Linked DNA regions of Homo sapiens: all the other regions are linked to region 3. Evidence: fine-mapped expression QTL. A gene starts in region 3. Each other region holds a variant in brackets. All regions are shown on one strand. Distances are between the middles of the regions.

What was found.
Region 1: its variant is fine-mapped to the expression of GPR160 in whole blood (INTERVAL, PIP above 0.99).
Region 2: its variant is fine-mapped to the expression of GPR160 in whole blood (TOPMed, PIP above 0.99).
Region 4: its variant is fine-mapped to the expression of GPR160 in whole blood (INTERVAL, PIP 0.97).
Region 5: its variant is fine-mapped to the expression of GPR160 in monocytes (BLUEPRINT, PIP 0.95).
Region 6: its variant is fine-mapped to the expression of GPR160 in whole blood (INTERVAL, PIP 0.97).
Region 7: its variant is fine-mapped to the expression of GPR160 in whole blood (INTERVAL, PIP above 0.99).

Annotation. Positions count from the first base shown.
Region 1 is chr3:170,345,460-170,349,931 of GRCh38, forward strand. No RefSeq gene overlaps it. Among named protein-coding and RNA genes, the nearest start is that of SKIL, 10 kb to the right of the region's middle. The variant C/G (reference allele first, on the strand shown) is at 2,459.
Region 2 is chr3:170,219,504-170,223,975 of GRCh38, forward strand. It overlaps PRKCI (protein kinase C iota), which reads left to right and starts at 2,921. Exons shown (of 18, transcript NM_002740.6): 1 at 2,921-3,267. The coding sequence starts at 3,167. RefSeq lists enhancers at 2,452-2,511, 2,582-2,641, 2,652-2,811 and a silencer at 2,992-3,281. The variant T/C (reference allele first, on the strand shown) is at 2,139.
Region 3 is chr3:170,036,053-170,040,524 of GRCh38, forward strand. GPR160 (G protein-coupled receptor 160) reads left to right here and starts at 1,943. Exons shown (of 4, transcript NM_014373.3): 1 at 1,943-2,163; 2 at 2,863-2,991. RefSeq lists silencers at 1,918-2,397, 2,708-2,757, 2,918-2,967 and an enhancer at 2,823-3,322.
Region 4 is chr3:170,156,566-170,160,565 of GRCh38, forward strand. The region is part of intron 4 of PHC3 (polyhomeotic homolog 3); the gene reads right to left. Among named protein-coding and RNA genes, the nearest start is that of PHC3, 23 kb to the right of the region's middle. The variant G/GA (reference allele first, on the strand shown) is at 2,362.
Region 5 is chr3:169,970,767-169,975,238 of GRCh38, forward strand. All of the region lies in intron 1 of SEC62 (SEC62 preprotein translocation factor), which reads left to right. Among named protein-coding and RNA genes, the nearest start is that of SEC62, 6.2 kb to the left of the region's middle. The variant C/CTT (reference allele first, on the strand shown) is at 1,814.
Region 6 is chr3:170,122,542-170,126,541 of GRCh38, forward strand. It overlaps PHC3 (polyhomeotic homolog 3), which reads right to left. Exons shown (of 15, transcript NM_024947.4): 9 at 50-203. Among named protein-coding and RNA genes, the nearest start is that of PHC3, 57 kb to the right of the region's middle. The variant A/G (reference allele first, on the strand shown) is at 2,297.
Region 7 is chr3:169,885,703-169,890,174 of GRCh38, forward strand. No RefSeq gene overlaps it. Among named protein-coding and RNA genes, the nearest start is that of LRRC31, 18 kb to the left of the region's middle. The variant G/A (reference allele first, on the strand shown) is at 2,541.

The DNA.
Region 1 (4,472 bases), 310 kb after region 3:
ACAGAAATTCAATACAGCTGATTAACAGCTGAAGCCTACTTCTGACATTTTGATATTTGAACAATAGATGGAGCAGAGATTATGATTGGTATCATTTTCTGAAGCAAGAAGCCAAACCTGGAGAGGCAACATAAGAAGATCTTCCAGTTTAGGTAGAGATCTCAGCTGAATATCTAAGCAGGTGTGATGCTGCTGGTGAGGTCACAGAGGCCTGCAGGAGACTGGACTCTTACTTCCTATTTATTATGGCCCACCATGATCTCTGCAATACGTATGTATTTAGTGAATGGCCTCAGAAGTCTGCATCAGTGTGGATGATTGTTTACAACTAAATAATTTTGCAACATTTATTAGCATGTTGTTCTCCACTTTCGTAAAATGCAGTATTTATTTTATTAATATGTATTTTAGAATGTGTAAAATATTTAAATATTGAATACTGAAGGCCTGGCCTTTGTCCATTCAGGAGAAGCTGACTAAAGCACATTTAAAAAATATTATAGACCGGGCGTGGTGGCTCACACCTGTAATCCCAGCACTTTGGGAGGCTGAGGCGGGCAGATCATCTGAGGTCTGGAGTTCAAGACCAGCCTGATCAACATGGAGAAACCCCATCTCTACTAAAAACACAAAATTAGTTGGGCGTAGTGGCGCATGCCTGTAATCCCAGCTACTCGGGAGGCTGAGGCAAGAGAATCGCTTGAACCCAGGAGGCGGAGGTTGCGGTGAGCCGAGATGGCGCCATTGCATCCAGCCTGGGCAACAAGAGTGAAATTCCTCAAAAATAAATAAATAAAAAATAATAATCATTAAATAAAGGTATTATATAGAGCTTTATTTGAGAAACTGGTTTATCTAAAAATTGACAAAGTGGTTGATGGAACTTCAGGGTAGTAATTTCACATTTACATTAACCTTTAATGAGACCATGTGGTTTCTTTAAAATCTATATTACCTGTGCAAAAGAAACCTATTCATTAGAAATCCAGTCTCTGATTTTGGCAACAGAGCCAATATTTATTTCCCACAGAGGCCAATTCTAGTAAGCTTTAAATCCAGGATAGTTAACTTCGTGAGAATAGTATCAACACTTATTTCCCCTGCTGTCAATTGAAAGAATATGTTGACCACCTACCGTAACTAATTTAACTGGGAAGTGGTTGAAACATTAATGAATAAAACAACAGTGTTGTTAACATTTTTTTCTGGAAAATAACTTTAATACATTAGGCATATTTGCAAATAATCATTTTACTGCCTGAGGTTTTAATATATAACTTAATATATAACTCATTTATAAGGGAAAATGCATAAATTCCACTTGGCTAACTAACTCCGTCTTTTCCTGTTAAATTATAAAAAGAGAAAGTCTAATTGGCCTAATTAATCAGTATTAACCCTCTGGGCTGGGCTTTTTGGGTCAGGCTAAGTCTAGGTTTTTGGTTAGACTATGGTTCTGGTCCCTGCTCCTGACTCATTCAGCAACCATCCTTTGCTCAGAGAATACCCTAAGGCCAGAGTAAGTGAGTGAGATGGTTTCTGTTAGAAGAGGATGGAGGAGTTGCATGCATCATGATTGAAATAATTCAATTAGAAAGTTTCTAATTTTTTGTTATGGTAAATGCCGTTGATGCACATATTTGTTATACATCTTTTAGCATTTTTTCCACTCTCTTTGTTAGGATACATTTCTTGGAATAATTGTTGAGTCAAAGGATTTGAAATTTTTTTTTTTTTTTGAGACGGAGTCTCACTGTGTCACCCAGGCTGGAGTGCAGTGGCATGATCTCGGCTCACTGCAACCTCCACCTCCCGGATTCACCGATTCTCCTGCCTCAGCCTCCCCAGTAGCTGGGACTACAGGCATCCGCCACCATGCCCGGCTAATTTTTTGTATTTTTAGTAGAGACCGGGTTTCACCATGTTTCGATCTCCTGACCTCGTGATCTGCTCGCCTCGGCCTCCCAAAGTGCTGGGATTACAGGCGTGAGCCACGGCGCCCGGCCTGACATTTTTTTCTTTTTCTTCTTTTCTTTTCTTTTTTTTTTTTTTTTTGAGATAGGGTCTTGCTCTGTCACCCAGGCTGGAGTGCAGTGGTGCCATCTTGGACCATTGCAACCTCTGTCTCCCAGGCTCAGGCAATCCTCCCACCTCAGCCTCTGAGTAGCTGGGACCACAGGTGTGCAGCACTATGCTAGGCTATTTTTTTGTATTTTTAGTAGAGACGGGGTCTTGCCATGTTGCCCAGAGAGAGAGAGAGAGAGAGAGAGAAACAGAGAGAGAATTCCAGAGTGCTCCTTTTACTTAATTATGCCAATTTTGCTAAAGAGCATTTAAAAAACTACTTTCAAGGTGGTGGAGCAGCGGGCCTATCTTGGACAGTCGGGCCTGTTCCTTCTCTTAGGAAAGTCTGCATTACACTTTTGTCCTGCCTGCCTGAGTGGCCAATCTGAGTGAC[C/G]CTGCTGCCACCATTGTCCCTTGGTCACCCTTTGGGTAGGGGAACTGTTCCCTCTACTTTTTCTGTATACTTCCCTTCACTTGGTATAGAGCATCTTAAACTTGAGAGGACAGAGAAGCACTTGGGAGCTTGCTTAATAGAGATTAAAGGAAGAAAGCCGGGCACAGTGGCTCAGGCCTGTAATCCCAGCACTTTGGGAGGCGGAGGTGGGCGGGTCACCCTGAAGTCAGGAGTTCAAGACCAGCTTGGCCAACATGGCGAAACCCCGTCTCTACTAAAAATACAAAAATTAGCCAGCCATGGTGGTGCGCGTCTACAATTCCAACTACTTGGGAGGCTGAGGCAGAAGAATTGCTAGTACCTAGGAGGTGGAGGTTGCAGTGAGCCAAGATCGAGCCATTGCATTACAGCCTGTGTGATGGAGTGAAACTGTCTCAAAAAAAAAAAAAGGGTTAAAGGAGGAAGATTCCTGCATTCTGATCCCTAATATTCTAATTTGGTAGTTCTAGGGCCCAAGAACCCATATTTTTAACAGGCTCCTTAGATGATTCTGGTGCAGGCACTTGGCAAATCCCACTTTCAGAAAAATTGCTCTGGTGCTTTGATGGGTACTTTTTGGGTAGTAAGAAGTCAACATGAGGCTGGGCACGGTGGCTTACACCTGTAATCCTAGCACTTTGGGAGGCTGAGGTGGGCAGATCACTAGGTCAGGAGATTGAGGCCATCCTGGCTAACATGGTGAAACCCCGTCTCTACTAAATATACAAAAAATTAGCCGGGCGTGATGGCATGTGCCTGTAGTCCCAGCTACTTGGGAGGCTGAGGTGGGAGAATCTCTTGAATCTGAGAGTTGGAGGTTGCAGTAAGCCAAGATCGCGCCACTGCACTCCAGCCTGAACGATAGAGCAAGACTCTGTCTCAAAAAAAAAAAAAAAAAAAAAAAAAAAAGGAGAAGTCAAGATGAAAAGTTTCCTATTTAAAAACACTGGTTGTGCTACTCTTCATTTCAGTAAGTCAGTTCTGGGTCTCATCAAACAACTTTCTTATGGGGATATTCAATTCTGAAGTGCCCAGTAGTACTTCCTAGGTAAGAATGCTGCTGGCCCTCTCATTTTCCTGCTATCATCCTTTAGATTAACCCATCTGTCTCATAGTCTTCCGTATCTAACCCCTCTGGTTCTCTGTTCTTATTAGGCCATGGCAGAATCCATTAAGGATCTCCACAGTTTCTCCTGATCCTACTTAGAAAATAATATTTTGAAGATATGTTCCTGGAACAGGTCAGGGAGTTGGTAGGGAGGTCATCTTGCTGTCTGCCAGAGACCTGGCCAGACCAAGGTTATCTGGGTTAATTAGAACCTGGCTCTTTGCCTTGAAGGTTCAGATACCCGATTTTGTCAACAAACAAGATTGATCTGGTCTGTGATGAGCAGACTCATCTTAACTAAACGTACAGCATTGGAAGCACACAACCAACATGCCATACATGGGTTTACAGTTAGAAAAGGAACTGGAGCATTTACACTGGCACAGAACTCCAGGTGCAAATGGTTTGAGTGCCCCATTATAATCACAAGCTTATTTCATGGGTAAAAAATCAGCTGGGTGCAGTGGCTCACACCTGTAATGCCAGTACTTTGGGAGGCTGAGGTGGGTGGATCACCTGACATCAGGAATTTGAGACCAGCCTGACCAACATGGAGAAAAACCATCTCTACTAAAAAAATACAAAATTAGCCAGGCGTGGTGGTGCATCCCTGTAATCCCAGCTACTCGGGAGGCTGAGGCAGGAGAATTGCTTGAACCCAGGAGGTGGAGGTTGCGGGGAGCCGAGACTGTGCCCTTGCGCTCCAGCCTGGGCAACAAGAGCGAAACTCCATCTCAAAAAAAAAAAAAAAAATTCAGAATAAGGGAAGGTAAACACCTGATTTACTTTCTGAATACATTGAGGCTGATTCTTTAATCTCCACAACTGAGATAATTTTGTAACCCTGCTGACGAATTATGCCTTTTG
Region 2 (4,472 bases), 180 kb after region 3:
CTGCAAATAATACCATCAAAAATATGAAAAGATTAAAAAAATGAAAAGATAATGCACAGAGTGGGAGAAAATATTTGCAAATAATCTAATAAGAGATGTATTTCCAGAATATATAAAGAGCTCTGGCCAGGCATGGTGGCTCACACCTATAATCTTAGCACTTTGGGAAGTCAAGGTGGGAAGATCACTTGAGCCCAGGAGTTGAAGATCAGCCTTGACATTATAGGAAGACCTAGTCTCTACAAAAACGAGAAAAACAAATTAGCTGGGTGTGGTGGCATATGCCTATGGGCCTAGCTACTCAGTAGGCTGAAGTGGAAGGATCGCTTGAGCCCAGGAGTTGGAGAGCTGTGATCATGCCATGCACTCCAGTCTGTGCAACAGAGCAAGATCTTGTCTTGAAGAAAAAAAAAAGAAAAGAGAGAACTCTTACAACTCAATGAAAAAAGACAACCCAATTTAAAAATGATTAAAGGATCTGAATAGATAGTTCTCCAAGAAGATATATAAATGGCCAATAAAAACACGAAAACATACCCAACATCATTAGTCATTAGGGAGATGTACATCAAAACTGTAATGAGATACCACTTCACAACCACTAGGATGGTTATGATAAAGAAGATGGGAAAAAAACCAAGTATTGGCAAGGACATTAAAAAAAACTGAAACCTTCACTGGGTATGGTGGCTTACACCTGTAATCTCAGCACTTTGGGAGGCTGAGGCAGGCAGATGGCTTCAGTCCAGGAGATTGAGACCAGCCTGGACAACATGGCAAAACCCCGGCGCTACAAAAAACACAAAATTTAGCAGGGTGTGGTGGCACATGCCTGTAGTCCCAGCTACTAGCGATGTTCAGAATAGAAAAACTCATAGCAACAGAAAATATATTATTGGTTGCCAGAGGTTGAGGAGAGTGGGGAGTAACTGCTAATGGATATGCAGTTACTTTCAGGGTGCTGAAAATACTCTGGATTTAGGTAGAGGTGATGGTTGCAAAACTTTGTGAAGATACTTAAAACTATCAAATTTTACACTTTAAATGAGTAAGTTGTATGGCATGTGAATTATCTTTTTTTAAAAAAATGAGACGGGATCTCACTGTGCATTGTGTTGCCCAGGGACGGAGTCTCGCTGGAGTGCAGTGGTGCAGTCTCAGAGGCTCACAGCAACCTCTGCCTCCTGGGTTTAAGCGATTCTCGTGCCTCAGCCTCCGGAGTAGCTGGGATTACAGGTGCCCGTATATTTTATAATATATTCCATAATTAATCGCTCCGTATTAAACTTGCTGATGCAGGTCTCCAATTACTGAAAAACCTGATACCAAGTTTTTCAATGGGATTTTTTTGTTTGTTTAAGAGATGGGGTCTCACCATGTTGCTCAGGCTGGCCTTGAACTCCTGGGCTCAAGTGATCCTCCAGCCTCAGCCTCTCAAAGGCTGGGACTACAGGCATGTAGCACTTTGCCTGACTCAAGGGGAATTTTTAGTAAGAGTATATAATCCAAGTCTGTAGCAGTTGGAGGATGTCGTACCACGCTGAAGTGTCACACATAACTGATGACTCAGTCCCCCAAGCCTATTTTATCATCGTAAAGAAAGCTATTTCTTTGATTATTCCAACTCTTTCAGCACCAGGACTGCTGCAGGGGCTGGATTCATGCTACCTGTAGTTGCAGTGTAAATTATGTGTCAGAGCCAAGATCCTAGGAAAGTCAAAGACTAGGTTACAAGAGCGATTCTTTTTTTTTTTTTTTTTTTTTTTTTTTGAGACAGAGTCTTGCTCTGTCGCCCAGGCTGGAGTGCAGTGGCACAGTCTTGGCTCACTGCAACCTCCGCCTCCCTGGTTCACGCCATTCTCCTGCCTTAGCCTCCCGAGTAGCTGGGACTACAGGCGCCCGCCACCACGCCCGGCTAATTTTTTGTGTTTTTAGTAGAGACGGGGTTTCACCGTGTTAGCCAGGATGGTCTCGATCTCCTGACCTTGTGATCCGCCCGCCTCGGCCTCCCAAAGTGCTGGGATTACAGGCTTGAGCCACCGCGCCCGGCCAAGGACGATTCTTTCTAATCTTTGGTAAGCCAGTTTTTACAGAATGAAATGCTCTTGGATTGACTGACTTGATTGGGTAAGTATTCA[T/C]TGGGCTCTTGTTCCATGCAAGGGCAGTCTACAAGGGCCTAGATATGGGGGCCCCCAAAGAAGAAAAATCGGTTTTTCATCATATTTTCTGGTTGAGTTTCTTCCTTTATTATATTTGTTACATATGTTATTAAATTATTTCCATAAAAGAGGTTATGCTGAGCAGGTAACCAAATTCTTGTTCCCCCAAAAGACATGTATAATTCAGACGATTTATGCAATTAGAAGAAGGGAGACTTCATCAGTTAATAAAGTCTAGAACGTGAGGAAGCCCAGTCATTTCCAGGACCTTCAGATGCCCAAGCTGGATCCAGGTTTTCCACCCCGACAGCTCCAGGGAGCACGCTGGAGAGACAGACTTCACCAGCGGGAAGGCGCGGCACCCTACGCGCAAGGAACCTCAAGTCCCAGAATCCTATGAGGACTCCAAATCCCAGAAACCTGCACGCAAATCTATCCCGGGTGCCAAGTCGGCCGACCGCAGACGTGACCAAGTTGCGAGGCTAGGGTGAGGTGTCGTAGAATTTGTCCCTACCATTGTCCCTGCAGGGAAGAGACTTTAGTGATCTAGAGCTGGTCATTGTCTCTTTCACAGCTCGCGTGAAAGCACCCCTCTCGGCGTGTTTGATGCCATGATCAGCGTCTCCCATTCCCTCTGTCCCCTTTCTCTGCCCCCGTAAGGATGGTTCAGCCCGGTATTGAGGCTCCTTGAGCTGGCTGGATGGTTGCGCCCGCCCTACCCCGGAATGTGGGCCTTTGGAGCGAGCGAAGTGGGAGGGACCGACGCAGGAGGTGTCTTGGGCCCGGGCGGCTGTAGAGGCGGCGGCGCCTACGGGCAGTGGGAGGAGCCGCGCGGTTCCGGCTGCTCCGGCGAGGCGACCCTTGGGTCGGCGCTGCGGGCGAGGTGGGCAGGTAGGTGGGCGGACGGCCGCGGTTCTCCGGCAAGCGCAGGCGGCGGAGTCCCCCACGGCGCCCGAAGCGCCCCCCCGCACCCCCGGCCTCCAGCGTTGAGGCGGGGGAGTGAGGAGATGCCGACCCAGAGGGACAGCAGCACCATGTCCCACACGGTCGCAGGCGGCGGCAGCGGGGACCATTCCCACCAGGTCCGGGTGAAAGCCTACTACCGCGGGTGAGTGTCCTGGGACAGGGCGGTGGGCGGGAGGGGACAGGCCGGCTCCACTCGGCCTGGAGGAGGGGAGGGTGAGGGGCTGGAGGTGTTGTGGGCGGATTGGGCTGGGCGGGCGGGCGGCTCCGGTGACTCAGGGTGAGTGACGAAGTGATAGGGGTGGGGGCGAAGCAAGGGGATGCAGTACTGGGGGCGCCCCCAGGTATGGCGGTGCGGGGAGCCGAGGGGCCAGAGTAGGGTCCGAGAAGGAAGCTAGGGTTAGAGTAGGTGCACCTGGTGTGGACGAGAGACTCGCCTCCTGAGAGCTTTGTAGGGGCCTTGCATCCTTAAGTCTGGGTGTATTTGGGGTTGCGAGTTGAGGATTCCAAGTGATGCCTTAGTTAACTCAGTTTGCTGTGGGGATAGAAAACGGGACTTCTTCAGTTAGCTGTCCGTTTTGATTACCAGCAGGCCTAACGCCTCTGGTTCTCTGAGATATACCTCCATCCCCGTTGTGTTCACGTAGTGTATCTGCACTGCCAGTATATTAGACATAGGGGTTGTATTTAAGAATCAAGTCGATGCGTTTTCAGGGACGTGCAGTGGGTACTTACGTGTCGTCAAGATTAAGTTGCATGTGTGTAAATCAAAATTTTGTGAGCCTTTCTTTCTCAGTGTTGTTTCAACGACTACCCGATAGGGTGAGATACTGCAAGGTGAGGAGACTAGCCTAGTTACAGTTTTAAATTCTCTGATCTTCACTCCCTTACTATGGTTACAAGAAAAAACCCAGTTCTAAGTTCATTGTGTTAAATCATTTTCTATCAGTGACGCAAAGTGCCCCCCTTCCTTTAAATTCAGTTGTGGTTTGAATTTTTTTTTGAGATAATTATGTTTAGGAGCATTAGAAACGTGAAATGTTAGTGTGACCATAAAGGTTGGAGACTGAGAAGTCACAGAAAACCCAGCTACTTTGGCTTGCCTTACTGCTTGTCCAGGTAGAAGTAAATTGCTTTAAAAAACTCAAGCAGTGCTAGGTTGAAATTTTAATGCATACTTTTACATTCCTGAGAGGATCAGTGAAGATAGCAAACTCTCAAACTACCTCTCTTGTTTTGATTTCAAAGAAAATCTGAGCCCCTAAATGTTGTATTGATTTGATGTAAGGACTTTTTTTTTTATTATTATACTTTAAGTTTTAGGGTACATGTGCACAATGTGCAGGTTAG
Region 3 (4,472 bases):
TTAGAAAAACCCTCCATTTTATATTTCATGGGCACTTTGCTAACAAGGATAAGATGTTTTGCTTGACGAACAAATTTTAAAAAAGAACACAAACAAGCACACTCATCCACTATAAGTTCTCACCAGAGGACCCTCTGACTGTAAAAGAGCGAAGCCTTCAGCTTGGCTGTCTTCACTAACACCGTCTTGCAGTCACTCATGATAAGAACTCAGAATTTGCCACCGAAAGCTCTGCCACATCAAAGACTCTTCCTTGCAAGACCACCAGGCCCAGACCAGGACTCCCTTTGTCTTCTTCCCTCCCTTTGGACTGGTTCATTAACCCTTTCTCCTCTTCTTCGTCTTGATGTTAAATATTACTTTGTTGTGGAATGTTTAATCTACAACATTCGTATAGTGATTAAGTATACTAGTATGTATGGTTTGCAATATTTACTGACTTATGGAGTGGCTTGAACCTATGTGCTCTGACTACAGAGTGAATGGGAAGGACTAAGGAGAATTGCCTCCTTGGGAACTCCATGTAGCTCCTGGATTTTGTGATTGAAATAGCATTTAAAAAAAAAAAAAGACTGACATTGTGGAGAGATACAAACGTGTATGGACATGGTCATCTTTAATCTCTAACTGCTATGACACTCAGAGAGGTTGAGAGGCTCAGGACACTCCCCTTGTTCAAGGCTCTGCGTGAAGAGGAGAAGGAAGAAATTGTGCAATATTTTATTTTATTTTATTTGTTTCAGATGAAGTCTGTCTCTGTTGCCCAGGCTGGAGTGTAATGGCGTGATCTTGGTTCACTGCAACCTCTGCCTCCTGGGTTCAAGTCATTCTCCTGCCTCAGCCTCCCAAGTAGCTGGGACTACAGGCATGTGCCATTACGCCCAACTAATTTTTGTATTTTTAGTAGAGGCAGGGTTTCACCATGTTGGCCAGGCTGGTCTTGAACTCGTGACCTCAAGTGATCCACCCGCCTCGGCCTCCCAAAGTGCTGGGATTACAGGCTTGAGCCACTGCGCTGGCCTAATTGTTCGATATTTTAAATGTTTAAATGACCGGCAAGTCGTAGGTGCTCAACAAATATTTGTTGAATGACAACAAATTAGCACTGTTGACACAAAAAAGGCAATGCAATATATGGGCTATTTAATATTTGCAGATTTTTATTTAAAAATCTGAATTCACAGTACACTGCAGGCGGTTGCTTAGAAGCATACAAGTTTCAAGAAGTTCTGTCACCCTGTGTATACTCTTTTTTTTTTTTTTTTTTTTTTTTTTTTTTTTTTTTGATACGGAGTCTTGCTGTTGCTGCCCAGGCTGGAGTGCAGTGGTGCGGTCTTAGCTCACTGCAACCTCCGCCTCCTGGGTTCAAGCGATTCTCGTGCCTCAGCTTCCCAAATAGCTGGGATTACAGGTGCGTGCCACCAAGCCCGGCTAATTTTTGTATTTTTAGTAGACATGGGGACCAACGTGGACCATGTTGGCCAGGCTGGTCTCAAACTCCTGACCTCAAGTGATCCGCCCACCTTGACCTCCCAAAGTGCTAGGATTACAGGCATGAGCCACCGCCTGGCCACCCTGTGTAAACTCTTATCTGGAGACAACTGCCAAGTTTACATTTGCAGAGGTAAGGGAAGGAGAGGCCCTGACCCAGTGGCCCCCGCTCGCCCGCCTGCTGGGGAGATGGGGAGCTCCTAGGACAGGGGCCGGGTCCTCAAGATGTGGCATGAGGAAGGGGGTCTCACTGAGCCCCCAAGCGGCTCCCGCACTGCGCACCCCTGGCTGCGTCCCTCTGCCAGCCTCAACTCAGCCCTCTCCTAGCCGGCGGGGGGTGACAGTCTCTGTGATATCTTTCCGTCCCGCCGGCAGGCGGCGCCCTCCGGCCCTTGTTTCGTTGGGCCCGGACGGGACGTGCGCGCTCAAAGGTTGCCCGTCTCTGACGCCCGCATTTCCTGGTCTGGAGCCGGCTGAGCCACAGCAGGGTCGCCGCGGGGTCCCGGGGCCGTGCTCCCCTGCCCCTCCCGGGAGCGCGCGGGGCGGGGCGGGGCGGGGCGGGACCAGGCGGGCGAGCTGGGCCCTCGCCCCTCCCTCGGGCGGTCACCTGGGCACGGGCGCTGCAGGTGTCGGGGCCTCAACCTTGCGGAGCCGACAGCCATCGATCCTCGGGTGAGTGCGGGCGCAGGTGGAGGGCGCCCGGCGCTCTCGCCACCGGCGTCCCAGCCTCGGGGCGGCGAACGGTCCCCGCGCCGCTCCCAGCCTCCCTGGCCGGGCGTTCAGCGCGCCTGGGAGGGGAAGGAATTTCCTTTGCAGGAACTCAGGGGCTGGGGGTTCTCTGCTACTTAAGAGATCCAGGAGTGGAGCCCGGACGCCCGAGCCTTCCTGCTTCGGGATGGGGATTACCGCGGAGCCTTAGCAACTGGGGTCTGTCGTGGGTTTGAGGGCAGGGGGTCTGGGGAATGGGCGTGTCCCGCACCCAGAGACTCGCCACCCTCTCTCCAGGGGAGATGCTTTTTAAACATGACAAACCCAGCAAGGTTATAGAAATGGGTGTATGCAACTCTTCGCTCTTTCCTGGCGCCCAGAGGTGAATAGTCTCACACACACGCGCGCGCGCGCGCGTGCGTGCATTCATTGGGGCCGACTTTGCCTCCCCTCCCCTGGCCTCGAGCGTTGGGGACGGCGCCCCCGCCCGCGCCCGCCACTGGGATTAAGCCCCAGGGCCTTGCCCGGCTATTTGTTTTCCGAGGCCGTTGCGTCCGGGTAGGTTCCTGGATGACCATCCTGGCTGGCTCAAAATTCCCTCTAGATTACCTGCGACCACCCCCAGGAACCCGGAGACTGAAACTCCTTTTCTCACCTGCGCAGGTGGCCTCGAGGTGGTGGCAGGGCCGCCCCCTGCAGTCCGGAGACGAACGCACGGACCGGGCCTCCGGAGGCAGGTTCGGCTGGAAGGAACCGCTCTCGCTTCGTCCTACACTTGCGCAAATGTCTCCGGTAAGGGGAAGTGTCGCTTAAATCCCAGAGATAACCCCCACCGAGAAGCATCACAAAAGACATGAACGAGTGTTTAGCTCTCAGGATTGTTATTGCTTCGAGTGAAATGGTTTCTTGTGTGCTTTTGTGCATTTATATATAAATATAAACATATATGTATACATTTGACAAGCTCTAAGACCGGCACTTGTGATATCTCCAGAATAGAGTTATTATAGTTATTTGGAAATTGTCAGTGAGGATCAGCTTGGTTGCTATGCGAATTGCAGGGAGGAGGACCTGTGTGCAGTTTCAAAACGATTTAAGAGAAATTCGGTGGCAATACAAGGTGTGGACGTTGGTTGGATCCTGATTTGATGAATGTTTTTTAAAATGGAGATGATGCCCGAGTGCGGTGGCTCACACCTGTAATCCCAGCACTTTGGGAGGCCGAGGTGGGTGGATCACCTGAGGTCAGGGGTTCGAGACCAGCCTGGCCAACATGGTGAAACCCTTCTCTACTAAAAATACAAAAATTAGCTGGGTGTGGTGACACGCGCCTGTAATCCCGGCTACTCGGGAAGGCTGAGGTAGGAGAATCGCTTGAACCCGGGAGGCGGAGGTTGCAGTAAGCCGAGATGGCGCCACTGCACTCCAGCCTGGGAGGCAGAGCGAGACTCCGTCTCAAAATAAATAAATAAATAAGGAGACGATGAAGGACATTTCTACTGATTATTTGATGGTATCAAGGAAATTATAATAGTTCTGTTTAGTTACTTTTGGTAACGGTATCCTGATTAAGGTTTTTAAAATCCCTGTAGAGACACAGACTGAAGTTGAAATACAGCTTTGGGATTTGCTTCAGAATTATTCAGTTTTAGATGCTAGCAGAGAAGGGAGGGGAACAAGATGAGAGGAGATTGTTCATGGATTGTTAATAGTTGAAGCTGGGAAGAACACATGGACACAGGCAGGGGAACTTCAGGCACGGGGGCCTGTCGGAGGGTGGGGGGAAAGGGGAGGGAGAGCACTAGGACAAATACCTAATGCATGCAGGGCTTAAAACCTAGATGACGGGTTGATAGGTGCAGCAAAACACCATGGCACATGTATACCTATTAACAAACCTGCACATTCAGCACCTGTATCCCAGAACTTAAAGTAAAACAAAAATAAAAATAGTTGAAGCTGGATGATGGTTATGGAAGTCCTTATGCTATTGTTTCAGTATTTGTGTGTGTTTGGCATTTTCCTTTAAACAGAACACCACCACTTGTGGAGCTTTTTTGCATAAGGTAGGTTTGGCACTGCAGCCGAGTCTAGATGCAAGGTCTTCCGCAGACGCTCGTTCTTTGTAAATTGGGTGTCAAGGCTGCTTCTCCAGACTCGGTCATAAAAAGTTTTTTTCTCCCTACTGGAGGTGCCGATTTATTTTGCTCAGAAGGCAGAGGGTGTTTGCTGAGTGTGACAAAGCTGAGCGGATCAAGTTGATGCAGGTGGAG
Region 4 (4,000 bases), 120 kb after region 3:
AGCTATCCATGAAGAATTTTCTTTTTAAGAGACTACATGGTTTTTTTTTTGAGATGGAGTCTCACTCTGTCACCCAGGCTGGAGTGCAGTGGCGCCATCTTGGCTCACTGCAAACTCCGCCTCCTGGGTTCAAGTGATTCTCCTGCCTCAGCCTCCTGAGTAGCTGGGATTACAGGGCTTGCTACCATGCCTGGCTAATTTTTGCATTTTTAATAGTAACGGGGTTTCACCATGTTGGTCAGGCTGGTCTTGAACTCCTGACCTCGTGATCCACGCACCTCGGCCTCCCAAAATGCTGGGATTACAGGTGTGAGCCACCGTACCCTGCTGAGACTACGTGTTTTTTAATAAATCAAAGAAATAAAATACCTATCCTATTTATTTTAGAAAAACATTACTTCTACTTTCTGCAATACAAGCTGGTGAAAATAAAACAAACATAAAAAACCTCACAGTCTCCCAATGTTTTCAGATTTTGGCATCCTAGAAAGAAAACTTGCAATGTCAGAACAATTATCATATTGGAAATAATTTAAAATGTCCAGCAACAGCGATGGTTATATAAAATAAAATCCATTCACACAGTGCAACCCCACACAGCAGCTTAAGTGAGATTGATCTCTGTCTGCAAACATAAAAAGATCTCAAGACACACTGTTAAGGGAAAAAAACAAAATGCAGAATACCTGTGTTTACAATGTGTAAAAAAGAGTGCTAAATGCATATATGCACACTTCTCTATGACATATATGTCCATAATACATAGGATAAGATGTGGAGGGGTATGGAACCAACTAAGAAGACAGACGGACTGAAAGGGAAAAGAGGCTTTAGGGAACTTAATACCTTTTTTACTTTTTCTGTACTGTTGGAATATTTTACAAAAATGCAGTAAAGCTGCTTGTGACCATACAAATATTCAGGCTACAGTTTTATCTCACACTAGTATTAGGTTTTGGAAAAGGCTTCTACACCCAATCACTTAAAATTATATTTTAAAGAATCCTTAAAAACAATGAGTTCTGAAGCCTAAAAAAATTCCCTGAATGAGATAATAGAGGATGAGGACACTAGCAGTAGAACACTGAGAATGACTGATTATAAGCAAATGATTTTCTCTCAGGTAAATTTACATCCCCTATATAGTATAAATATATCAAATGGACTCTGATATGTGGCTGATGTGATTTGGACATTTTTGAGAAAACTGAACAGTTTTAAGGTTCTTGATCTAAAAACAATCTCACTGACCCACTGAATATACTCTCAGGAAATTTTTAAGAAGAAAATAATAACTAAAAATATATACAAATATATATAATAAAATAGTCAATGCAGGTTTACTTATATTAGCAAAAAGACAGAAAAATTAAAACCACCAGCAAGAGAAAAGTAGTTTTTAAAAATGGTAGAACATTATATACTCATTAAAAATCATATTTACAACCAATAAATAAAGAAGACAATAAAGAAACAAACCATTTGCTTATCCCTCCTACTAAACCCCACTGAAATAGCAATTAATACAGTAAAAAAGGATTGAGAAAACAATCACACAAATCTAGACTATTGGAAATTCCATAAGGTAAGCTGACCTGAGCTCTTCAAACGTCATGAAAGAAAAAAAATGAAGTCTATTTTTATATTAAAAAGAAAAAAGAGTCTTCAATGCAGTATGTGATCCTTAATTAAATATTCAATGTGATCCTTAATTAAATACTCAATGCGGGCCAGGCATGGTGAGCCAAGATTGTGCCACTGCACTCCAGCCTGGGTGACAGAGACTCCATCTCAACAAAAAATCGAGGCAGGCGAATCACGAGGTCAGAAGTTCGAAACCAGCCTGCCAACATGGTGAAACCCCATCTCCACTAAAAATACAAAAAATTAGCTGGACATAGTGGCAGGCACCTGTAATCCCAGCTACTTGGGAGGCTGAGGCAGGAGAAATCGCTTGAACCTGGCTGGCAGAGGTTGCAGTGAGCCAAGACCACACCACTGCACTCAAGCCTAGGCCACAGAGTGAGACTCCATCTCAAAAAAGAAAAATTTCAAAAAAAGAAAAAAAAAAACCTGATAGGCCAGGCACAGTGGCTCACACCTGTAACCCCAGCACTCTGGGAGGCCAAAGCAGGTGGATCACTTGAGCTCAGGAGTTCGAGACCAGCCTGGGCAACATGGCAAGACTTTGACACTACAGAAAATACAAAAATTAGTCAGGTGTGGTGGCACACGACTATAATCTCAGCTACTTGAAGGGCTGAGCAGGGAGGATCACTTGAGCCTGGGAGGTGGCAGTTGCAATAAGCCATATTAGCACCACTGCACTCCAGCATGGACAACAAAGTGAGAACCTGTCTT[G/GA]AAAAAAAAAAAAAAAGTGAAAATAAAAGTAAAATAAAATCTGGGCCGGGCGTGGTGGCTCACACCTGTAATCCCAGCACTTTGGGAGGCCAAGGCGGGCAGATCACAAGGTCAGGAGATCGAGACCATCCTGGCTAACATGGTGAAACCGCGTATCCACTAAAAATACAAAAAATTAGCAGGGCGTGGTGGCAGGCGCCTGCAGTCCCAGCTATTCAGGAGGCTGAGGCAGGAGAACGGGCGTGAACCTGGGAGGCGGAGCTTGCAGTGAGCCGAGATCACGCCACTGCACTCCAGCCTGGAAGACAGAGCGAGACTCGGTCTCAAAAAAAAAAAAAAAAAAAAAAATCTGATAAATAGCATAACAGAGATCCAAAGTATTTTATCCATAATAGAAAAACGGAATATTAGTTTGAAAGAACAATGAGAAAACAAGAAAATGCTCTGAGAAATTATAAATAGTGGCTGAACTAAAAATTTTTTAAAAGTCAAAGAAAGGGCTAAAAGAAAAAGTTAAGGAAATATCCCACACACAAAAAAAGGCAGTAAGTGAAAAGGTAAACAAGATAAAGGATCAATCCAGAAAGGTCAACATTCAACCAAGAGCTCCAGAAAGAGAAAACAGAAAATTAATTTCTCGTGGATTTGTTCAGTTTCACATATATGATCATTAAAGAACAAAATTAACTTCTTGCAGATTTGTTTAGTTTCACATACATGATCATTAAAAACCTAGTTTCACACTAAGAGGGCCCAACAGGTGTCCTACACAATGACATCTAGACACATTGCCATGAAACTACAAAATAAAAAACTAAAGCAAACAGGCATATCTCAAAGATTCTGGAAAGAAAAAACAGGCAGTTACCCCAGAAGAATGATAATGGAACTAACAACAGCCTTTTCTTCAGCAATACTAAAATTTTGAAAAAAGTAATCTTTGCTTTCAAATTTCCTCAGAAAAAATATTTTCAATACAGAATTCATGTAAAGATAATTATAAAAAGAGGTAATTTTCAAGCCCACAAAGATTTAGTTTTTCTTCCACATAGCCTTTAAAAGAAAGTTATAAGATACTCCAGCAAAACAAAATTCTTATCATACTGTCCTTTGACTATTTACTTGTCTGTATCCTCATTATACTCTAAAACCTTTGTTCACTTTCAATCCTTGGCACCTGACACCAAGTAGGCACTCAATAAAAAAGTACTGGCATAGACTGTCCTCAGGAATGTGGAAGACTAACATAGAATCCCACATAGTAATGAATCCCTAAATCTAACCTCTGCTGTCTCAGGATCATGATCTCACGGTGAGACCTCTTGTCTGCAAACTCTACCTGTTTTAAAAGTTTAGCGTTCCTCAGCTACTATAATACAATCCTCAAAGATCTCTCTTCTGTTAACTCCTATGACATTTACCACTTGATTAGTACTATTATATTATTTACTGTTTGATATATCTAAGCATAGTTCTTCAAATGCATACTCCCTGAGGGAAGAAACTTTGACTTACATGTACCACCAGAGCAAGCAGCACAATGTTGGACAATACACATATTTGCTATAATGGGCAACCAAAGAATCTCATCACTGGGGTCAGGATTAGAAACTCTACTATAACTCAATCTCAGGCAATT
Region 5 (4,472 bases), 65 kb before region 3:
AGTTCTCTCCATTTGTTTGAAGATTGATAGGTTGGTTTCTCTTTATTAGTGGGTGCTACTATTCCCAAAAGGCCTTCACTTTGTTAGAAGTCTTCTAGGAAAATTATAAAAATATTCTGTTTACATCAAAAGAGAACAAAGAGGGGGAGGTACTGTAGTCCAATGTATAAACAAAAAGAAGGTAAAACTTTTATACCTTCTTATGCTGCATCAGGAGAACAGTGAAAGTGAAGACTGCATGCACGTTGGATGTGGTGGCTTGTGCTTGTAATCCCAACTATCTGTTCATGTTCTCATGGTACTTTTTTTTTTTTTTTTTAAAGAGACAAGGTCTCACTGTGGTGCCCAGGCTGGAATGCAGTGATGGCATCATAGCTCACTAGAGACTCAAACTCCTGGTCTCAAGTGATCCTCTGGCCACAACCTCCCAACTAGCTGGGACTACAAGTGTGTGCACCACCTCACCTAGCTAATTTTTTTTAATTTTTTGTAGAGATGGAGTATCAGAAAGTTACCTAGGCTGGTCTTAAACTCCTGGTCTCATGCGATCCACCTCGGCCTCCCAAAGTGGTGGGGATTACAGGGATGAGCCACTGAGCCCTGCCTCTCATGGTACTCTTCTACAGCAATCTATCTTTCTGGCTTCAACGCCAAAGCAATGGCACAAATTATATTGTTGCATTGAAGGCAGTCTACAATATGGATAAGTTATTATAAGTTAATAAATTGCAATACTTTAAGAAAGTATCAGTAAACAAGTTAATTCTGTGTCTAGTTGGGAGAGATTATCCAAGTCCGTGTTTTCTGGTCTCTTCCTTTCATTGCCTCTTGATAGTGCCTTTACAAAGGACAGGGTGCAGTTTTAGAAGAGTTTGGTGAACTTGAAATTAATTGTTAGAATGAGATTTTTAAATTTTGTGCATACATATCAGGTTCCCTATTGCGTAATATGTAATCAGCTTCTCAATTTTTTATGTACCCTAATATTTAATCAGGTTTTACATGTGATGCCTCTATCAGCAGTCAGTAGATTAGTATATTTATGTCTGTATTCAGGAATGGTATAACTGAGTGTTAGTATGAGTATATTTGTATCATGCCTAAATTTGATATGGTCATTCTCTACAATTACTTTCCTTCCACATTTCCTTTCTGTTGATAAAGTTGGAAATCTGACATCTTTACCTAGCCATTTTATTTATCCTTTATCATTGAGTTCTATGTGTTCTACATTTGAAATGTTTCAGATATCTAAATTTCTTTCCCATTTATAGTCCAGTATCACACTACAATTTACTTGAATATTACAGTAGTCTTCCATCCATTTCCCTGCCTTATGCATTTTTTTCCAGTTCATCCTACACACAGCCACCAAAATCATGTCTAAATCATTTTTCTAGTTATGTCCTATTAAGAAACTACTAGTGGTCTTTCTGCTGCTTACAGGGTAAAGTAGAAATTTCCTTGCCTACCTTGATGACTATTCTGCTTTTACACACTTAATCTCCCAGTACTTCCTAGCTTGTCTCTACTAGAGCCAAATTTTGTGTCATTCTCAGCCACAATATTTATGGCTTTTCAGTCAGTTTACCCAAAACTTGTTCATCTTTCAAACTTTATCTTCCTCTTCCAGTGTTCCCATCCACATTGATAATCTCACTCCTAATTTGGGTGCTTTCACTTTGTTGCCAAGGCTGGAGTGCAGTGGCATGATCTTGGTTCACTGCAGCCTCAACCTACCAGGGCTCAGGTGGTCTTCCTACCTCAGCCTCCTGAGTAGCTGGAACTACACATGTGTAGCACCTTTTTCTAT[C/CTT]TTTTTTTTTTTTTTTTTTTTATGTAGAGAAGGAGTTTCACCATGTTGCCCAGGCTGGTCTCAAGCCTGGTTTCCTGGGCTCAAGCAGTCTGCCTGCCTCAGCCACCCAAAGTACTGGGATTACAGGCATGAGCCACCCAACCCATCCTACTCTGTGTATTTCAAAAATATTTTTTCTGCCCCTCTTTTTGGGAAATAATAATTACTGCTTCTAACAGTTATGTAACAGAGTGTACATATCATGCCTTACAAATCTTTGCTGTTAACTGTAGCATCCAAAGATGATAGGGTGAGTACTCTGTAAGTCTGGAAGAACAGGTCACATTTATTCAGACTTCTCCCCCACAATTTTTAATCAAGCACCTCCCAGTAACAAGTTATTTAATTAGATCGATTTTAAGTTGACAACAGATGTATCAGATGAGGAAAAAATTGAGCATGTGTGGTGTGATTATATAATAGAATTGGTTTCTATAAACCATTTATAGTATTCAACTTTTATAGTATTACTTTTTCAGATGTATGGATATATAGACTATTATTTACTAATTGAGGCTCTGCGAAGTGTAGTGTATTTTACAAACATAATTAAATACTATCATTTAATATGCCTGATACTAACATATATTAATATATTTTAGCATGGTTTCAAAAATTTTAATTAGGAATTTTTGCCTTTTATTATATCAGAAAGTATATTTTGCAGTCAGGCCTCAAATAAATCATTATGAATCTTGTAGTTGTTCCTGAACTTGGAGTGTTAAATTTTGAATTTGCCATTTTTTAAGGTTCCAGTTTTTTGCTGGGCGTGGTGGCTTACGCCTGTAATCCCAAGACTTTGGGAGACTGAGGCATGCAGATTATCTGAGGTCAGGAATTCGAGACCAGCCTGGCTAACATGGTAAAATCCCATCCCTACAAAAAATACAAAAAATTAGCCGGACATGGTGGTGGGCACCTGTAATCCCAGCTACTCGGGAGGCTGAGGCATGAGAATCGCTGGAACTCAGGAGGTGGGGGTTGCAGTGAGATGAGATAGCACCATTGCACTCCAGCCTGGGAGACAGAGCAAGACTGCGTCTCAAAAAAAAAAAAAAAATCTACTTTTTGTGATACGTATTTTCATATATAAAAGTTTTAATTTCATAAATACTTGGTTTTTATAGTAGCCTTCTTTTGGGTTGAGTGATTTGGGCTCTTAATTTTTATTGCCACAAATAGCCCACAGCTGGTAGTTGCAGACTGTAGGAATTGTACACTGGTATGATCTTACACAGGTAATTGGGCTACTGGAAGTAGAGGACTTGCGAAATACAAAGGAAGAAATGAGAGATGTACCTGCCAGGAGACTCAGTAACCAAAACAAAAACTTCCACTTCATCTAACAAATTATTCCTTTTTGGGATAAAGTTAAAGCTGAAACGTAGGTTTGTTGGTTGTTCTTTATTTTCCTCAAACATAACTTAATTCAGACTTCTCTTAACTTTGGAAAAACCCAACATAGATAAGTTGGATAGATTCTTTTTTCTATTTTGCATCATTAGATTTTTTTTGCTTGAAACAGCTGTCTTTAGCATTAATTCTTAGCATCTTAGATTCTTGCCAGATTATTTTTTACTATTATTTGTCATTTTATTCTTTAATGAAGCAGCCCTTCCTGAAATCATTCACATTTAGATTATATGTTGCTGGAAATACTGAATGTTCTGTGTATTGTGCTTAAGCATGCAATTATAGACAGTAATTAAGTACAGTGCATTTGTTTCAATAGCTTACAGCAATAAGACAGCTTTTGAAAGTTTATACATAAGATGTATACAAAGATAGACTGCCTTCATTTTCTTCAGTACGTGAGTAGGGAAAATAAATTCACAGGAGGAATTGTCAAAGAAGTTCAGAATGAAAGGGAATAAAGGGAAGATGGGGAATGAGAAACAATGAAGAAAATAATAGAAAATTTGGGAAAAGATATAGAAGAAAGAAAGCAGAGAAGGATTAAAACGGCCTTTCCAAAACGACTCTTTGTCAGTGCACTTCCATTAATCACCTCTTCAAATGAGATAGTAATAACTCTTTTTGCATTTTTCATTTTTGCCTCACCCTTACTGGAGAAGAGAAGATGAGAAAGACAGTCCCAGGAGTGTCTGGTATCTGCAGCCACAGGGGGAAAGGAAAGAGAATACAAATTGTCATTGTGTCAGTAGTTCTTATGGCTACCACATTGGGGGCAGCTGTCATTGATTAATTTGAGAACTCCTTCTGCGATCTGTTGTCCATTGTTCAGGATACATATCTTTGGCTGTTATTTTAACATTTATTTATGACACTTGTTTCTACTTACTTTGACATTTGGATACTCACTATTAGCAACATCTTATCTTTTTAATTACTGTTTTGTGGCTTATAAAAAGAGACTATAGGCCGGTGACGATGGCTCACGCCTGTAATCCCAGCACTTTGGGAGGCCTAGGCTGGCGGATCACTTGAGGTCAGGAGTTCAAGACCACCCTAGCCAACGTGGCGAAACCCTGTCTCTACTAAAAATACAAAAATTAGCTGGGCATGGTGGCAGGCACCTGTAATACCAGCTACTTGGGAGGCTGAGGCAGGAGAGTCACTTGAACTCAGGAGGCAGAGGTTGCAGTGAGCCGAGATCGCA
Region 6 (4,000 bases), 86 kb after region 3:
TAACATTTATCAAATAGAAAAATTCCCACAAATTTTGGTATTTTCTCACCTAACAAAGGATGTTCAGAAGTCAAATCTTCTCCTCTCCCCACTGTTATAGCTGCTGGAGACAAAGTGGGTGGTGGTGGGGTTCTATCCATCCGGACACATTCATCTGACTCTTCTGGCATTTCTTCTTCACACACATCTTCTACCTGATAAACCTGCAATGACAAACCATACTGCCTTAAAATGTTTCCAAAACTATATTTTATCAGGTGTTCTTAATTTCAGAAAATTAAATTCTATGTGTATTAAATTTAAAAACAAGGCAAAAATGACTACTCTAACAGACTGAAAGGAAAACTTAAAAATTGCTCGAATGAAGTTTTTCATATTTCTTCATAATATTTGACTGAAAGCAAGCTGTGGATCAGTATCTAGACCAAAAATCACCAAGGTTTCCAAAAAGATGGTAGTCAAGTCTGAAAATATTTTTTATTTCGATAATTAAAAAATACAAATAAAATAACGATTTTGGGAATTCAACTGTTTTTGTTAACTTCTAACTGTCATGAATCAAAACAGATACTAACATTTTTCATAAGCACACTAAGCGAATTCCTACAATGACACACTATATTAGGACATGTAGGATTCTATCCCAGGCTCTTCCTTATTATTATGTAATTTAAAGATTAAATTATAAAAAGTAACATCTGAGAATCTACAAAAAAAGATACGCAATTATATCTCTCCTTTTCTGTTCTACTCAACAATCTAATGACTCTTTATATATAATATGCAAACAGAAAATATCTTTCCTTGAAATGCATACACACACACACACACACAGCCTAAGCTCTTTGACACCTTATTTTTTTACTCTTTTTATAATGTTCCATACTTATGGGAGAAAGTTTTTAAGTCTATAACTTAACCACCTTGTTATCCAATTGTAAAGATTATACTTAAGAAGGAAAATGGGGCCAGGTGCAGTGGCTCGTGCCTGCAATCCAGCACTCTGGGAGGCTGAGGTGGGTGGATCACCGGAGGTCAGGAGTTCCACAACAGCCTGGCCAACATGGTGAAACCCTACCTCTACTTAAAAAAATACAAAAAATTAGCCAGGCATGGTGGCGGGCGCCTGTAGTTCCAGCTACTTGGGAGGCTGAATCAAGAACATCACTTGAACCTGGGAGGCAGAGGTTGCAGTGAGCCAAGATCAGGCCATTGCACTCCAGCCTGGGTAACAGAGTGAGACTCCATCTCAAAAAAAAGAAAAAGGAAAATGGAATCGAAGGCACCCTGAGAAGGAGCTATGTAACTAGAAATACTTTTTTTTTTGACAGAGTCTCGCTCTGTTGCCAGGCTGGAGTGCAGTGGTGCGATCTCAGCTCACTGCAATCTCTGCCTCCTGGGTTCAAGCGATTCTCCTGGCTCAGCCACCCCGAGTAGCTGGGACTACAGGCGCGTGCCACCATGCCCAGCTAATTTTTTGTACTTTTTAGTAGAGACAGGGTTTCACCAGGTTGGCCATGATGGTCTTGATCTCTTGACCTCGTGATCCACCTGCCTTGGCCTCCCAAAGTGCTGGGATTACAGGCGTGAGCCACCGCACCCGGCCAATACCTTATTATTAATGTTTCCATTTCAAAGAACACTTCTAGAGGTTGACATGGGTATTTTAATTTAATTTGTTATCATTTATTATTTACTTAACCATTATTTATGAAAAATGATTACTAAAAATAAAGCCATAAGAGTTCATTTCCCTTCTTTTATCTATAAAGCTTATTACTTAAGTTTACAAAAATTATGAGTTTTTAAAATCTTATTTAACCATACTGACTAATCTTCCCATTAAAAAAGTGTTTTTTGAGAAAGGGTCTCACTCTGCTGCCCAGGCTGGAGTGCAGTGGCTCCATTATGGCTCACTCAGCCTTGACCTCCAAGCTCAGCCTCCTGAGTAGCTGGGACCACAGGTGTTCACTAACACACCCAGCTCATTTTAAAATGTTTTTTGTAGAGATGAGGTCTCACTATGTTGCCCAGGCTGGTCTCAAACTCCTGGGCTCAAGTGATCCTCCTGCCTTGGCCTCTCAAAGTGCTGGGATTATAGGCATGAGCCACTGCACACCTAGCCCCACAAATGTTAACAAACAAACTTTCAACATTCACAAGAAACCTTTCAGCAACATCTAATATTGTGTACATTTTTAATCAAACTATTTTAAAAGTCTGATGTTTTAAAGTATATAAAATTATACATAAAAGTGATCAGGATTTCTGAAACCAGCAAAACCCATGTGTTGTA[A/G]AAGGGACAATCAAGTTTCACCTATAAGGATATAACAGTAAGTTATAAAGGTAACAATAGGTGACAATCAAAAATAAAATAAAATAAAATAAAAATCTTTCCAAGGCTCCACTAAGAATAAAACATCTTCTTTTGTCTTTTGTACAACTTTAAAATTCTACTGTTACTGGATAATTTTATATCAAACATAATATTATACCAAATATAAAATTCAGAACTGTGATCTGAATCAGCTACAAAGTAGGCAACATTTTTTAAAGTTATTTGCTCACAACCCTGCACCTGGAAACCAGTTACACTAAGAGAGATTCTGTGCCTCATGCCTGAATCTCAGACGTGAAAGCAGTCATTTGTTATTGTTCGGAGCAACAATTATACTAGATCGGTTCATGATAATAACAGTTTTTTAAATGATGATAATGCCCAATATAGGTAAAATCATTCTAAAAAGTGTCTGGGGGGTTAAGAAAAAAAATCTAGTCCCCAAGGGCAAGTGCTGTCACAGTGAATACTTTAATTTGCCTTAGTGTCAGAGATGTTAATTCAGAGATAATTAAACAAGTATGGTTTTATCGACCAGTTCAATTTTATCTATGTAGCATTCCTTCAGTATAATAGATAGTACTTTTCTTCCAAAGAACATGATCTTTGCTTAAAATGCTGAAACTCTCTTTAATCCTAATGCAGTTACATGTTATTCAAACATCTGCTAGAGTATCTTTTAAGAAATCAAAGCTTGATCATACATAGAATTCTGATTTTTAAAAACAAGAGTTTAAAGAATGAAAAGAGCCATAACACAAATAGCATATTTTGAAATAATCCATCAAATACTGTAAAATACTTTCCACTCATTATACTTAAAGCTAACTATATGTACTTCCAGAACTCTCATATAAAGGCGAAATAAGTGCATGAATAAAAGAAGTAGGCAAAAACAAATCTGTCACAGACATCTGGCACAATCAGCATTAACAAATCTAAATGTTCAACAATTAAAATGTTGAAAAAAGCAAAGTGGAGGTTTTGCTCACTCACAAGATCATTAGGAAACTGCACATCACAATTACTGTTTAGCTCATAACTATAACTATTCTAAAAATAACAAAGACTGCCAAACTTACCTCAATAAAGTCCAATATTCCCATCTGTTTCCCTTTCCTAAATAAACTGAGGAATATTTGTTTATTAGTTCTAAATTATCTACCCTCAACATACTTATATCCAAATGTCAACAAAAAACTTTAATTCTTAAGTATCTTAAAAAACATACTGATTTTACTTTGAAAATTCACCCTTATCTTTCAAATTTCCACATCTCTTAAAAAATACATCTTTCTACCTTTAAGTGTTTGAAACAACCAGAAAAATATAACCTGTGAAGAAATGTGTTTGAATGGAAAAAATAACACATTTGGTCAAAGGTAATAAAAAAACAAGCTTAATAAATTATTAAAGAGCTATGTTACTCAAAGAAAGGTAAAAGATTAAAAAATATTTAGAAAGGTAACATGGAAACATCCATAGCAAGCATTATAACCATATCAGTGATAGCAGAGAAAGTTATTAATATCATTTTTTAAACTTCCAAAAATGTTTTAAGGTAGAAGTGCAGGAAGCAACAAAATATTTTTGGCTTTAGTTTTCAAAGTATTATGCTCCATATGTATATATATATATATATATATATATTTTTTTTTTTTT
Region 7 (4,472 bases), 150 kb before region 3:
TGACTACTGGCACATGCCACAGCCCCTGGCTCAAATTTTGTACTTAGTAAAAAGTATTTGGCATCACAAAAACAGGGCTTAGATGCTAGCATAGAAATAACATTGGTAGTTGAGATGATTTCCTATCATTTCAAGAGGCTGTCACCCAAAAGTTGCAAAGTGTCCCTGCCTGGGTCCTTCCAATCAGGGGAGAAACACTACTAATTCACACAGAACGTTGTCAACAAGATGCTCTGCTTCCCAGGCCTATTTGCATTCTTATAGGGTCAACGGTGCTTGATTCAAATAAATGACTACCTGAGGGTAAAATTTCAGATGATGAACCATTTAGAATTTTCTACTTTCTCTTAAAGATTATCCACTAAGTTTCCTCCAGCTCTTAACTTTCTGTAATACAATTGCAAATTCAAATGATGAAAGTTTGCATGTTTAAACTTAGAAATTGTCAGAAGAGAAATTTTGGTTTTATTCAAATTTGCTTTTTAAACATTTACAAAAGAGAAGCAGGGAATTGTCATCACCAGTTCGAAAGCGAAATGCCTTCTGATTTTTTATTGTTTTCAAGAACAAAAGACTTTTTTGTTGGAAACATCAGAGTTGATTTTTATGTTTGCATACATTAGAGAGATAATGACAGGTTTCTTGCAAAAACCACCATTACGTCTCATACCAGCCTCTCTGATGTTTCATAATTTTCTAAACATATTTCAGAGTTATTGGCAAGCACAAAACTTTGCAATTTAGGTGGATATCAGAACAACTTGACAATTTTCCTCATGTTTTAAAGTGAAAGTCATAGAAACACAACAGAGGAAATCTGCCACTTGTAATGGAGCAAAATCTTTACTTGAGTCTTTGAGAGATTGTCTCAACCAGATCACTTAGATCCTTTAGTCCCTAAGTTATAAACATGCTTATCCTTTAGCTTAGTTTATTAGCATAGATGAAAAAGCACTTTCAGAAATTTGCCTTATTAATTCTTCTAAATTAAAGCTGACTCCCTTCTTTAAAAAGCTGCACTTTTCTAACTTCAGGTGTTTCCTTCTCAGAGAGAAGATGTATATGATTCTATTTCCCCACCTATGAGGCCAGCCTGTGTGCCTCGTCTCCTGAACAATCATTACCCGACTTGGGCCTGCTCACCAGATTGTTGGATGTTGAAAGGACCTGGTCTGGGGCCAGGACACTTTAGGAATCTCTGCTGTGCTCATGCCAAACTCTTGGCAGGAAACCAGGCTGGGCGCTCCAGGACCCAGTGCTAGAGGCCAAAAGACCGGTCTCTTCTATGATGCCTGGCTCCTCACCAGGCAAAGTTGCGGGGGCTGGGGGGTGGGGGTCTCTTCCATTGCTGAGATTCTGCCCCCACTCTCTTGTGTTGGTTGAGAGAGCTGTATCCAGTGACCGCCTACGTGGCTACCATTTCTAAAACATTGTTTATTTCATCATTTAAGATTTCTATTTGGGGGCGTTTTATCACATACATAGCACATTTAATCACAGTTCATGTGCATAAATATATAAAGTTTAAAAATATATAAAGGATATTCATGTATAAAAATATTTTCTGATGAGAGTTCCCAATCAAAAAAGTTTGGATACCACTGTTCTATGAGCAAAAGTTCTGGAAAAGGTTTCTATGTCCTTTTCCCAGAAGCAATTAAAAAGCTTATTTCTGAGACACAAGAACCAACTTGAAACAGCTCCAAGTGGCCAAAGACAGCATAATTTGAGCATTAATACAATGGATTGAAACATATTAAATAAATTTAAAATTGATACATTCATAATAATATTTTTAAAATAAACACATTGGTCATCTTTAAAGGATGTTAATAAACCAATTAATTATTCTGAAAAGAATCAAGCATGAAACCTGACTTTCTAGTGTGAGCTGTACCCTAGGATACCAAATACTTAATGAGGGAAATTTCACTCCCTCTCCCTCACTCCCTCTCCACACACATACATACTCAAAGAATAATAGAATATCATCATCTGGCAAATCTCAAATTAAATAAGATACAGGCTATGACTTTCAGTAGCCACTAACATCACAAGAAGAGAAATAACTGAAGATGACGTGCCTCCTGATGGAAGATCCAACACCACCTATGAGACTGTTCTGCCAAAAACTCAAACCTGAATCAGACCAAGCATCTAAATCTCATAACCAAGTTTTAGGAAATACAGAGGCCTGTGGAACACCATGGAGTACAATAAGCCAAACCAGACTGTGGCAGGCTCAACTGGAAAGATAATCTGTTTATTAAGCAAATGTATTTCAAGACAAAAGAAGCAGGAAAAAAACCTATAGCTTAAAAGAAACTCAAGACATGTAAGCCAAATGCAGCTTGTGGACCTTTTTTGGATTCTCATTCAAACAAACCAAATTTTTAAAAAATTATAAGACAGTCAGGGAAATCTGAACACTGGATAACAGGTAATTATTATTACTATTATTATTTGAGACCAAGTCTCACTCTGTCCCCCAGGCTGAAGTGCAGTGGTGCAGTCTCGGCTCACTGCAACCTCCGCCTCCC[G/A]GGTTCAAGCAACTCTCATGCCTCAGCCTCCCAAGTGGCTGGGATTACAGGCGTATGCCACCACGCCCGGCTAATTTTTGTATTTTTAGTAGAGTATGGGGTTTCACCACGTAGGCCAGGCTAGGTCTCAAACTCCTGACCTCAGGTGATCCACCTACCTCGCCTCCCAAAGCGCTGGGATTACAGATAACAGATAATATTAAACATTGTTAAAGTTTTAGGTCATAATTTTATGGTAATTTTTTGATGTCTTTCTCTTTTAGAAACACTTACTAGAATATTTATGGATGAAAGAATACCATTGCTGTCACTGGCTTCTATATACTCCAGTGTGGGGAAGGTGAAAGGTGTACCTTTTGTAGTCTTAGAAGGTATAGGTGAAACAAGAGTGGGCACAATTTTCTGATTGTTGTAGCTACATAATTTGTACATTCAGGGTTATTGTTCCATTCTGTCTCCTTTGGTATATGTCTGGAATTATTCATAATAAGAGATTTTTCTAAAGGCTTATTATGCCCAACAGCCATCCTCCTTTGTATTCCTAAGGCACACACTAGAGAAAATGTTTCTCAGAATCAAGAATTCCAAATGCTGTAGTGGAATCCAGTAACAAAATTAGTTTGAAGGGACCCATGAATTGCTGCTGCAATCTCGCCTCTGAGAAAAAGCCAAGAAAAAGGGAAAGGCGGCCGTAATGACCTTCATGATTGACTTATGCAGGATTTCCACTGCTGAAAGGGAAATCCTATAGCATTTAGTGCTCTCAATTAAATATTTCATACAGGAGCCATAAGGTGTTGTTGAAAGAAATGAAACCTTGTTGTGTGCCCTGTTTCCTAATATCTGCTAAGGCACATCCTCCTCTGGACCCCACCTTACATCTAGAGGACGGGCCAAGGCAGCAATGCTGGGGATCAGGTTCAATGACTCTTTTCAGTGAAATATATATACAAAAGGAGGTGGCTGAGTTTTTGTTGTTGTTGTTGTTGTTGTTGTTTTTAGGGGTTTTGTTTGTTCGTTTTTTTGAGACGGAGTCTCACTCTGTCGCCCAGGCTGGAGTGCCGTGGCGTGACCTCGGCTCACTGCAACCTCCACCTCCCAGGTTCAAGCAATTCTCCTGCCTCAGCCTCCCGGGTAGCTGAGATTACAGGCATGTGCCACCATGCCCAGCTAATTATTTTTATTTTTAGTAGAGACAGGGTTTCACCATGTTGGCCCGGCTGGTCTCAAACTCCTGACCTCAAGTGATCCACCCACCTCGGCCTCCCAAAGTGCTGGGATTACAGGCGTGAGCCACCGTGCCCAGCTGTGACTGAGTTTTTAAACAAAATTTTATCTTTCTTTATTTTTATTGTATTTATTTTTTTTTTTGAGACAGAGTTTCGCTCTTGTTGCCCAGGCTGGAGTGCATTGGCGCGATCTTGGCTCACTGCAACCTCCGCCTCCCAGGTCCAAGTGATTCTCCCGCCTCAGTCTCCCGAGTAGCTGGGATTACAGGTGCCCACCACCTCGCCTAGCTAAATTTTTTTTGTATTTTTAGTAGAGATGGGATTTCACTATATTGGCCAGGCTGGTCTTGAACTCCTGACCTCAGGAGATCCACCTGCCTTGGCCTCCCAAAGTGCTGGGATTACATGCGTGAGCCACTGCGCCCGGCCCTTGTCCTGTTTTTTTAATCTTAAAAGTTGCTGGGCACATAGTAGTTGTCTTTAAGTGTCCACTGAATGAATATTTGTGCATATAGTATTTCATAGGGTTGGGTGGGGAGGACATCCCAGCTGTTCATCAGAACACAGCCTAGAGAGTGAACACAATTTATTTATTTATTTTTTATTTATTTATTTATTTGTTTATTTTTGAGACAGAGTCTTGTTTTGTTGCCAGGCTGGAGTCCAATGGCGTGATCTCAGCTCACTGCAACCTCCGCCTCCT